Regions from separate parts of the Homo sapiens genome. Here region 2 is linked to region 1. Evidence: fine-mapped expression QTL. A gene starts in region 1. The other region holds a variant in brackets. All regions are shown on one strand. Distances are between the middles of the regions. Region 1 holds the start of EGLN1 (egl-9 family hypoxia inducible factor 1). Region 2 overlaps DISC1 (DISC1 scaffold protein).

What was found. PIP is the estimated chance that this variant, and not a neighbour inherited with it, causes the effect.
Region 2: its variant is fine-mapped to the expression of EGLN1 in prostate (GTEx, PIP above 0.99).

What each region holds. Positions count from the first base shown.
Region 1 is chr1:231,419,022-231,424,397 of GRCh38, reverse strand. EGLN1 (egl-9 family hypoxia inducible factor 1) reads left to right here and starts at 2,111. Exons shown (of 5, transcript NM_022051.3): 1 at 2,111-3,400. The coding sequence starts at 2,510. RefSeq lists silencers at 1,646-1,970, 1,726-2,905 and an enhancer at 3,286-3,555.
Region 2 is chr1:231,772,594-231,777,969 of GRCh38, reverse strand. All of the region lies in intron 6 of DISC1 (DISC1 scaffold protein), which reads right to left. The region is part of intron 10 of TSNAX-DISC1 (TSNAX-DISC1 readthrough (NMD candidate)); the gene reads right to left. Among named protein-coding and RNA genes, the nearest start is that of DISC2, 43 kb to the left of the region's middle. The variant G/T (reference allele first, on the strand shown) is at 2,525.

The sequences.
Region 1 (5,376 bases):
TTGTATACTTAATTGGAACAAGAAAGCTAATAAAGGTTTTGATATGGACATCTATTCTTTTAAGTAAACTTCAATGAAAATATATGAGTAGAGCATATAGAGATGTAAATAATTTGTGGACACACCACAGACTGAAATAGCAAATTTAAAAGAAATTGTTGGAAGAATCAAGTGTTTGTGGAATGAGTCCTCCTAGTAAAGTTCCTGCTCTTGTGAATAATTAAGCCTCATGTATAATTACTATAGCAAAAGGAAGCCTAAGAAGTATTAGACTCTACTTGTATTTAAATTACATTTTACATAATTTATGTGTATGAAAAATGTTTTAAATGCTTATTTTCGTAAGCCATGAGATAGCTCCTTTATATTTTAAGAATTTCTGAATTAATTTGCTTGGATTTTATTAGTGCAAATGGCAGAGCTAGCAATTCCTTTTTCTGTGTTCCCATTCCATCCTATTCATCCCTCTTTTAGGAAACTCTGAACTCTGGATTGTCCTTGTTTACATACCTGCCTCCTGCATTGGACTATGTGTCTCTGAGTGTAGTATGACTAATTCATTTGTTTGTCAAGGACTCTCAATGCATTTGTTGAACAGCCTAATTAGTAATGTCTGCAACAATGACATTTTACTGTATTTAATAAAGCTCTGGGAAAGTAGGATACACATAAGACAGGTCTAGGTCTAAATTCTTTACAGAAACTTGGATTTTTAGTTCGGTTTGAAATTTGAAGATGTGAGTATATTTATCTCAGTTTCCCAAAGGACAAGCTAATTGGAATTATCATCCTCTTTCACTTGATTGGATCCCCAGAATGCCATTTACGCATGCAGCAGGATTTTATAACAGTTTTAAATTCTGTATATTTGATGAAGAGGTTTTATATTTTTGGATTCAAGCCTCTTTTTAAACTTCTACAATATGGTTTACAATAATTCCTTATATCCTGCTTTTGAAATACATATTACAACTTTTTAAGTTTGGAAGGCTATATTTCAAGGACTGAAGTTACAGTATACTCAAGTGATACACAAGCCTAGCACCCCACTTTCCACATAGTGTTCGATAAAGATTGATAAACTCGAAATCACAGACCTTTTAATTCTTAAGACAAATAGCAGCAGAAAGAAACATCTTTGGCTTATTTCTGGTAAGGTTTTTATGCTCTGTAAAACAAAGAATTGTATTCATCCGCGCAGCACAGATTCTATTAAAAATAAATGTGAGAGTCGTTAATGTAGTACTGCTCATTTACCATCAAAATTCACTTTTCAGGAATAATCCCATCAGTTTAAATTGGATATTGGAATGAGCATTGATTACATTTAACTTGGTAGCCCAAAATTTCTTCATGGGGTTTTGAACTCGGCGGGATTTCAAAGGTTTTAAAAATGAGTTTTTGATTTTTTTTAAAACCCTCAAATTTCATTACCTTTAAACTAGGTCGAAACGGGGCGCAAGAGATTGGATTAACACCATAGTAATACTTATTTTGTTCTTAACCATTTCAGGGCTTCTTGAAATAGAGGCTGTATGGTGTAATGGAAAAAACAGCCTTGGAATCTGGGAGCCTGATTCCTGGATTCAGTCCCAGTTTTGCGTGACCTTGGGCAAGTTACTTTACTTCTCTGAATTTCCGTTTCCTCCTCTGCAAAATGAGGATCGCAATAGCCACCTTGCAACCTTGACTGGAGCGAGCCTCGCACACCCCGCGCCGGCCTGGAGGAAGAGCAGCCATGATTACGCCGCCTTCGCTCCGCTACCCGCTTGCGGCTGGCGCCCTCCTCCAGCAGGTGTAGGCGCTGCCGCGCTGCCCCACGCCTTTCCGCCGCTCGCGGGCCTGCGCCTCGGCGTCCCCGAGGAGGCCGCTGCGGGCTGAGGTAGCGCACCGGCCTCTCGGCGTCCCAGTCCGGTCCCGGGCGGAGGGAAAGCGGGCGACCCACCTCCGAGGCAGAAGCCGAGGCCCGGCCCCGCCGAGTGCGGAGGAGCGCAGGCAGCCCCCGCCCCTCGGCCCTCCCCCCGGCCCTCCCGGCCCTCCCTCCGCCCCCTCCGCCCTCGCGCGCCGCCCGCCCGGGTCGCCGCGGGGCCGTGGTGTACGTGCAGAGCGCGCAGAGCGAGTGGCGCCCGTATGCCCTGCGCTCCTCCACAGCCTGGGCCGGGCCGCCCGGGACGCTGAGGCGGCGGCGGCGGCCGAGGGGGCCGGTCTTGCGCTCCCCAGGCCCGCGCGCCTGAGCCCAGGTTGCCATTCGCCGCACAGGCCCTATTCTCTCAGCCCTCGGCGGCGATGAGGCGCTGAGGCGGCTGCCGGCGCTGCGCCGGAGCTTAGGACTCGGAAGCGGCCGGGCCGAGGGCGTGGGGTGCCGGCCTCCCTGAGGCGAGGGTAGCGGGTGCATGGCGCAGTAACGGCCCCTATCTCTCTCCCCGCTCCCCAGCCTCGGGCGAGGCCGTCCGGCCGCTACCCCTCCTGCTCGGCCGCCGCAGTCGCCGTCGCCGCCGCCGCCGCCGCCATGGCCAATGACAGCGGCGGGCCCGGCGGGCCGAGCCCGAGCGAGCGAGACCGGCAGTACTGCGAGCTGTGCGGGAAGATGGAGAACCTGCTGCGCTGCAGCCGCTGCCGCAGCTCCTTCTACTGCTGCAAGGAGCACCAGCGTCAGGACTGGAAGAAGCACAAGCTCGTGTGCCAGGGCAGCGAGGGCGCCCTCGGCCACGGAGTGGGCCCACACCAGCATTCCGGCCCCGCGCCGCCGGCTGCAGTGCCGCCGCCCAGGGCCGGGGCCCGGGAGCCCAGGAAGGCAGCGGCGCGCCGGGACAACGCCTCCGGGGACGCGGCCAAGGGAAAAGTAAAGGCCAAGCCCCCGGCCGACCCAGCGGCGGCCGCGTCGCCGTGTCGTGCGGCCGCCGGCGGCCAGGGCTCGGCGGTGGCTGCCGAAGCCGAGCCCGGCAAGGAGGAGCCGCCGGCCCGCTCATCGCTGTTCCAGGAGAAGGCGAACCTGTACCCCCCAAGCAACACGCCCGGGGATGCGCTGAGCCCCGGCGGCGGCCTGCGGCCCAACGGGCAGACGAAGCCCCTGCCGGCGCTGAAGCTGGCGCTCGAGTACATCGTGCCGTGCATGAACAAGCACGGCATCTGTGTGGTGGACGACTTCCTCGGCAAGGAGACCGGACAGCAGATCGGCGACGAGGTGCGCGCCCTGCACGACACCGGGAAGTTCACGGACGGGCAGCTGGTCAGCCAGAAGAGTGACTCGTCCAAGGACATCCGAGGCGATAAGATCACCTGGATCGAGGGCAAGGAGCCCGGCTGCGAAACCATTGGGCTGCTCATGAGCAGCATGGACGACCTGATACGCCACTGTAACGGGAAGCTGGGCAGCTACAAAATCAATGGCCGGACGAAAGTAAGTGTGTGCTGCGGGTTTGTGCTGGACAGGCCCTTCTCGGCGGGCAGCCCCTGCCTGCGACTGAAACTGCCTAGGCTGAGAAGCAGCATTCCTCTATATAGAAGGGACTCGCTCTTTCTTGTGTAGCTCCCCGTAAGGAAGACGGACAGAATTTGTAGTAGCTGTTTATCTAGTTAGCCCCTTTGTATCCACTGTTTTCCACTTACTGCCCGTTCACAAACTTCTCCGGCTAATTGCATGGTTTTTTGACTCAACGTAGGCGCTTTAACTTTCCTATTTTCTTTTTTCCATTCCACTATTGGTCACAATTCAAACCTTAGTGGCGTTTTAGCCACCCAGTGAAGGGGTGTTAGAGTACCACCCAAAGCAAGTCCTGGTTCTGCATCTGCCTTGTGTTTGCATAAGCTGTTAAATTTCCTATGGTGTCTGAACCACTCATCACATTTCGATTGAGAGTCAAACGCTGTGTTCAGTTAGGAATTTGCCGGCTGACCGCAAAAAGGTACATTTAAAATAAGCATTTAGTCGAAAGACTCTGTATTCAGGAAGAGCTTGGCTACTCCCCTCCCCCTGTTATAGCTCTTATCCCTCACCCTGTTCCTACTGTTTTGAAACCCGTTACAAAAAGGGGAAAGAAGTATTTCCGTCTTCAGGCCTCTCAGTGTAGGTAGGCTACATTTTTAGCACCAGTTTCCTTTATTTGCTTTGTTAATGTAATCCTTCTGTTGAAAACTGTTTTGTAACTTCCTGGAAAACAAAACAAAACAAAACAACAACACGGAATTGGCGCAGGAGGGCTCGTTTTATCCTCCCAATTTGGTGAGATCTTTTTGTTTTCTCTTTACTATTGCGGTTTTTCCTCCACAGATTTCTTCACTTCTTACCTAGTCTATTCCCTCTTTCCTCCCTCATGATAAACAGTAGACTCTTTCGTCCTTAACCAACTCTCTTGCAGCTCTTTTTCATTTTACTTCTCAGATCTTGATCTTTTCTTTGTGGCTGCTCCCAGGCCACCCTCCTCCACCATCAGTCTCTGATTTTGTGGGTTTTGAGAGATTGACCTGGGAGAGCATCACAGTTGCATGTTTGTACACACACGCTGACTCTAACTAGTGGTTTTTCTGTATGTGTGTGTCAGATCATCTACTTTGACAGTCATTACATGTGATTCTCAGGCTGCCCGAAAGACTGAACATAGGCAGTGAGAAAGTTATAAACGTGAACATTTTGTGGGGAAAAATACAATGTGGAGTCTAATTTACCTATTGCCACTTCATTGCTGGATGAAGGCACAAGTCTTAATTTCTTGTAGTCTTAAAAAGGAACAGTTGAATAATATTAAACTGGAAGGAAAAGGGGGATCTGATGAAATTTCAGCGTTGGTCTTTCACTAGATTTTCATTGATAAAATTTTTAAGAAAGTTGTCAGGGCACAACTTTAAGAAATTGTCACATCTGAACATAAAGTCCTGAGCTCCAGAGCAGGAAAGAAATTAGTTTGAGACAATAGGGCTGTGAAGACTGACCAAAGTATATAGTTGGGACATAAGCTTAAATTGGATTCTTGAAGAAGATGATGTCCCAAATCTTTCTTGATCTGCTTTCCTTAGTTAATTTAGCTTTCCAAGTTAAGCTGAGACCTCTTTTCTCTTTTGTCTTCCTGCTTTCACCTGTCCTTAGAGAAGGGACAGCAGACAGCCTGGCTCTTAGAGCAAATGCTTCTCATAGAGATGCTATTAGGAAATAGGTACCTCCTTCCTCAAGAGTTCTAGTTGTTGGGGTTTTAAGTCACGTAACTGTACATATTAGCAGGTAATAAGGGACAGGATGAAGGAGGGATGACCTTTAAACTCTTTGGATTTGATCTGCTTATATTAATTTTAGGGACGCAACTTCAGGATCTATAAATGATATTCAGGAATTCCTTTCATTGTACTTCTTGGCTGAAAGAGGTTTTGGTAATCGTGTTTGAA
Region 2 (5,376 bases), 350 kb before region 1:
ATCAGTGTGAACCATCTCTGGATTCCCTCTGCATTAAAAATTCGCCAAAGACGTGAGGGCACTGCTTTTACGGCTGTGTGAACTTGGACCCTCAGCAGCCTCATCTGCAAAATGGGCATAAAAACAATATATTGCCCAACAAACCTTATAGGGTTATTGTAAGCAAGTATGACAGTTTGTAAATAACAGAGATATTAAAATTAGTGTATGAGTATCAACACCAGTCTAACTAAGAAGGACAGACAGGATAAATTTGAGTGGAGAGGGCACACCTGCAGGGAGGTCCTGAATGCTGCAGATGTCGCCTATGCAGGGAAGCCTCACTCCGGGCACCCATCTGGCCAGCATTGCTCACACACTTCTGTCTCACTGCATTTGCTGTCTTGGCAAATATTTTTCTGCCTCATGAATTCCTGAGAAAAGCAAGATGTCTACTTTACTTAAAAAGGGGAGTAGGGGGAAAAGAAAACCCTGTAATCCCAGTGACCCAGGAGGCTGAGGTGGAAAGATCACTTGAGGACAGGAGTTCAAGTCTAACCTGGCAACATAGCAAGACCCCCATCTCTATAAAAAATTAAAAAATTAGCCTGGCATGGTGACATGCACCTATAATCCTAGCACTTGGAAGGCTGAGGCAGGAGGATCACTTGAGCTCAGGAGTAAAATGCTGCAATGAGCCATGATCATACCACTGTACTCCAGCCTGTGGGACAGAGGGAAACCCCATCTCTAAAAAAGAGAGAAAAGTCCTTACCAAAAAAAAGAGGGGGAAAATCAGAATTTCCTAGAAAAATGCAAAGCTCTCCTCTTTCTCCAGATGATGTCTAATGCTCTCAGTCCCATAAAGCCATTGTCTTGGCAAACCAGTCAGGTAGAAGGCAAAGACAGAGGAGAGAGAAAGACAAAGCCCAGAAGTGGAGATTAAAGAACAACAATCTTCACGAATGGAAAAGCAGCTTGGAGACTGCTGATATGCTGCAGGGATATTCTCTGCAGTCTGTGCGTGACTCCAGTTTGGTGGCTGCCTCGCACTACCCCCGGGGCAAGAGCATTAATGGGACCCCTCCCACACAGCTGCTTCCACGCAACCCTCTTTGAGAATCTCTACCAGGATCCTAGATTCAGGATCAGTTTTCCAATTCAGGCCTTGCTGTTTCACTGTCTCCTCACTCTAATAAGATATGTTTCTGAGGGAAAAGAGGAACTATTGATTTTTTTTTCCCATTCAGTTGTGAGCTGGTGAATTACATTATTTCAAATCTCACTTGCAAGGAGGACTGACATCAGCAGGGACTGCATGTTGTGGACTGAGCACAGGTGTGATGAGGATGCCTGCAGCACCCTGCATAATCAGTGCCCCCCGCCAGGGAGCCCTGGGCAGTTTAGCTAGTGGCTGGGGGCATGGATACTGCAGAAGGCCTGGCTCCTCTCCACCCGCGAGCCTCCCCAGCCCAGCCCTGCCGCGAGGCTCCCAGACTCTCCAACCAAGGCCCAGCCAGCCCTCCTGTAACCAGGGGTTGAGTTTGTTTCACACTTTGTGCCAATGGTTTGCAAAAGATGTGACATGTTTCTTCCAAATGCACAACAAGCGACAATTCATCCATGAGCTGCCAGAACACATTTCACATGAAGCATGAAAAATCCGAGGAGCTGAGGAATGAAGAACTCAACCCCAGATGAATACAAGCCAGTCAAGCATTTCTAAAGAATGTTAGAAAGCATCCTAGGCAGCCCTCCACGTCATCACTGTGATTATTACTATAATTATTCCTCCCTCACTTTGCCGTTAGCCATATGCATGCTACATGAGGTCACAGGCTGCCCTCCCCTGGTTTTCCAGACACATAAAACCAACAAGAAGCCAGGGGAGGCTGAGCTAATGGTGCTAGACAGAGAGGAGCTGCAAATCACCATTCTCCTCAATTTACGCCAAATAAATAGATGGAACCTCATGCCCACATGGAGGGATGTGATCCACAGAAAATCTTGGACACTGTCACCTCCTCCCTGTGTCCCCCATCTTTTCCCTCTCCTCCCTCCCCCACCCCCACATCACAATCCCATTACAGAGAATGGGAATGCAGTCAGCAGGGGGTAGAACAAGAACCATGGGTTTCGTGTGGGAGAAGAACCAAGCTCACTGGGTAAAAGTGGTTCTTCTAAGACCCTCACATCAAAGGAAGACTTGCAGGAGAAAACAAGGCACTTGTTTTAAAGCAGGGGGGTTGAAATCCCAGGGATGAGAGAAATTCAAATGAACATATCTTTTAAGTGGTTCCTGTCCTTTCATGCACCCCTGCTCTGTCAGCTTCCATACTGTGGAGCTCCTCATTCTCCAGTGCTTAAAAAGGGTTCTCCTTTTGTTCACTGGAAGAAAACCATTTTTGTTGGCTCTACTCAAAAAGTGTCTATGATGTCTCTGGGATGGTAACACTTCATCTCCTCCTGCTAAGTTATTTGATCCAGAACACAGACATTGGAAAATTCAAATGGCTTCTTTGATTTCTGTTATCACACCCAAACC[G/T]AAAATCACTGGGTGTCCTTGACCCCAGCACATGCCCTCTACTTCCAGCCCATCTCTGACATTGGCCAGGGGGTTCCCAACAAGCCACAGTCAGAAACGATGGCCTCCATGTAAGCACGTAAGTCTCCACCAGTGATACATCCAGAAATGTCACATGCTATTAGGAAGTTTCTTTTCAAGTTGTTGGGTCGTTGTCCACGAAACAAAGCATATTGCAATTGCATGTTAGAAAGTTGAGTAAATTACAAACAGACAGCACCCTGAGTTTGTATCTGGCCTCTATGAAAATCCTTATAGATGATGATAACAGTCGTGATGTTGAGTGATCTGTTTCTCTAGGTTTTGTAACAATACTAGTCTCTGCAACTTCTCTTTATAAGACTTCAAGGTTTTCCTGTTTCACAATTTGTCTGGCTCTCTCCATCTGGCCTAAGAAGAGCCTATTCTCATGAACAATGAAGGCAGCTATTGATGTATGTAAGATGGGTTCATTTGGCTAAATATACCTACTGGATATTATCCCTAAGTCAGCATTTTCTAAAAGACAACCAATACTTCATAGCAAAAATTAGGTTAACAGGATCATGTCCAATTAGTTAAAAATACTAGACCAAGCAATCTCTCTGACCTGTTGAGCCAGCTGGTTCTACACTGGTTTCTTTCAAATGCTTCACTTCTGCAGATCCATGCTGCAGCCCATCAGCTTGGAAAAGACATATCTTCCTTCTCAAATGGAAAGCCCAAATATTGATGACGGGTTTCTCTAGTTGATGGTTACGGCAGGGAGCAGTCTGATGCCTCACCTCCCTACGGTGGAAGAAAGGAAGCTGACCAATCAAAGTGTGCACCTACACAGCCCACACTGCCCTCCAGATGCGGCGATACCTCCCTGCACCTCAAAGTAAATTAGACTGATGCCAAGGATCACCTCTTGAGAATCACCCAGATAATGAGGATGTCTCAGGGTGGCCACACTCCAGCCACACAAAACTCCAGCCAGTGCTGATGGCCTCTGCTCACCATGAGTGTTCCATGCTGCAGGCACCTGTATAACTTCCTTATCGCAGGAGAAAAAGGTCATGTTATTAACTAGTCATTAGATTGTCCAGGTTTTTTGTACCTTTTAACTGCTCTGGTTTATTCCTACCCTCCCATGAAACTCTTCGTCCTTACATTCCTTTTTTTTTTCTTTGAGTCAGGGTCTTGCTCTGTTGCCCTGGCTGGACTGCAGTGGCACAATCATAGTTCACTGTAATCTCGAACTCCAGGGCTTGAGCAACCTTCCTGCCTCAGCCTCCCGAGTAGCTAGGACTACAAGTACACTCAATCATGCCTGGCTAATTTTTTTTATTTTTATTTTTTTATTTTTGTAGAGATTAGGTGTCAAATTCCTGGACTCAAGCATTCTTCCCGCCTTGGCCTCCCAAAGTGCTGGGATTATAGGTGTGAGCCACTGTTCCCAGCCTCATCCTTACATTCCCAAGATCTCCTCCTACATGAAGCCTTCATGGTTTCTGAAAGTCCTTGAGATACCCAGGTTTTCCTATAGTCACCTCAGCACAAAAACGTGGCAGCCTGTTCTTGACCTGACCTCTGTAATCTCAGTGGGAATGTTCGGATTGGGGATGGTGGATTCTCCCAGAGGACCCCACAGACAGCAGTGCCCCATGTTCAAGATCATCCTCATATATAATTTCCCTAACAGCATCATAAAATCAGAGAGCCACAACTTTTGAAATGCCTTTCAAGAACCTATCCAATTGGCTGGGCGCAGTGGCTCACGCCTGTAATCTCAGCACTTTGGGAGGCCAAGGAGGGCAGATCATGAGGTCAGGAAATTAAGACCATCCTGGCTAACATGGTGAAACCCTGTCTCTACTAAAAATACAAAAAATTAGCTGGGTGTGCTGGCACAAGCCTGTAGTCCCAGCTACTCAGGAGGCTGAGGCAGGAAAATCGCTTGAACCTGGGAGGCGGAGGTTGCAGTGAGCCGAGATCGCACCACTGCACTCCAGCCTGGGTGACAGAGAGAGACTCTATCTCAAAACATACAAACAAACAAACAAACAAATAAAAACCTATCAAAGCACTAGATTACTCAGTAAAAGTCACACATTCATGCCTTCTCTGTGACTCATCCTGATTAAAAGGCAAACCAGAGGATACAGGTAGAAAACCAGACCAAGTCCTGGGCTCAGTTCTATCAGCCAACCACACTGTGGAGCTCCTAGTTTTAGATGAGGAAAGAGAATTAGTCATAGAAATAGCTTCCTTGGCTCTCTGGAAGGAAACCATCTTTTATTGATTCAGGCCCAAAGACAGCCATAGTTGTACACAAGATGGTCTCTTACTAGCTACATCATCAGGGAAACTTTCTGAGTTTTTGATTCCTCAGTTGCAAAATGAGAACATAACAGCCTACCCACCACACCAAGGCAATAGCTGAAGAATGGTTCTGAAAGTGCAGGTGGGAGAGAACAAGCTGTATTCAAGGGACCCGTTTCATTTGGATGAAAACCGGCAACAATCCAAATCTCTTCCCCCTCTCCATGGGCATGAGCCATGGAGAGTTCTGCCTGGAAATATTCGGGATAGAAGGGGAATGGGAGGAGATCTTAAGTAACTCCCTAGAATAGCATGTGCCGCTTGCTTTTATAGGCTGGATAGGATGTGATACATGTGGAAGACAGAACAGTCGTTCACTAAATACAGTAAGATATATTTGGACGGGTAGTTTGAAGGCCTTCAGAAGACTGAAATTTCCATTGTAAAGACGACGACTGGAAGCACAATAAAGTGCTTAGTACCATCCAGGCTCTGCTGAGAGTTTTCTATGTACTACCTCGGTTCAT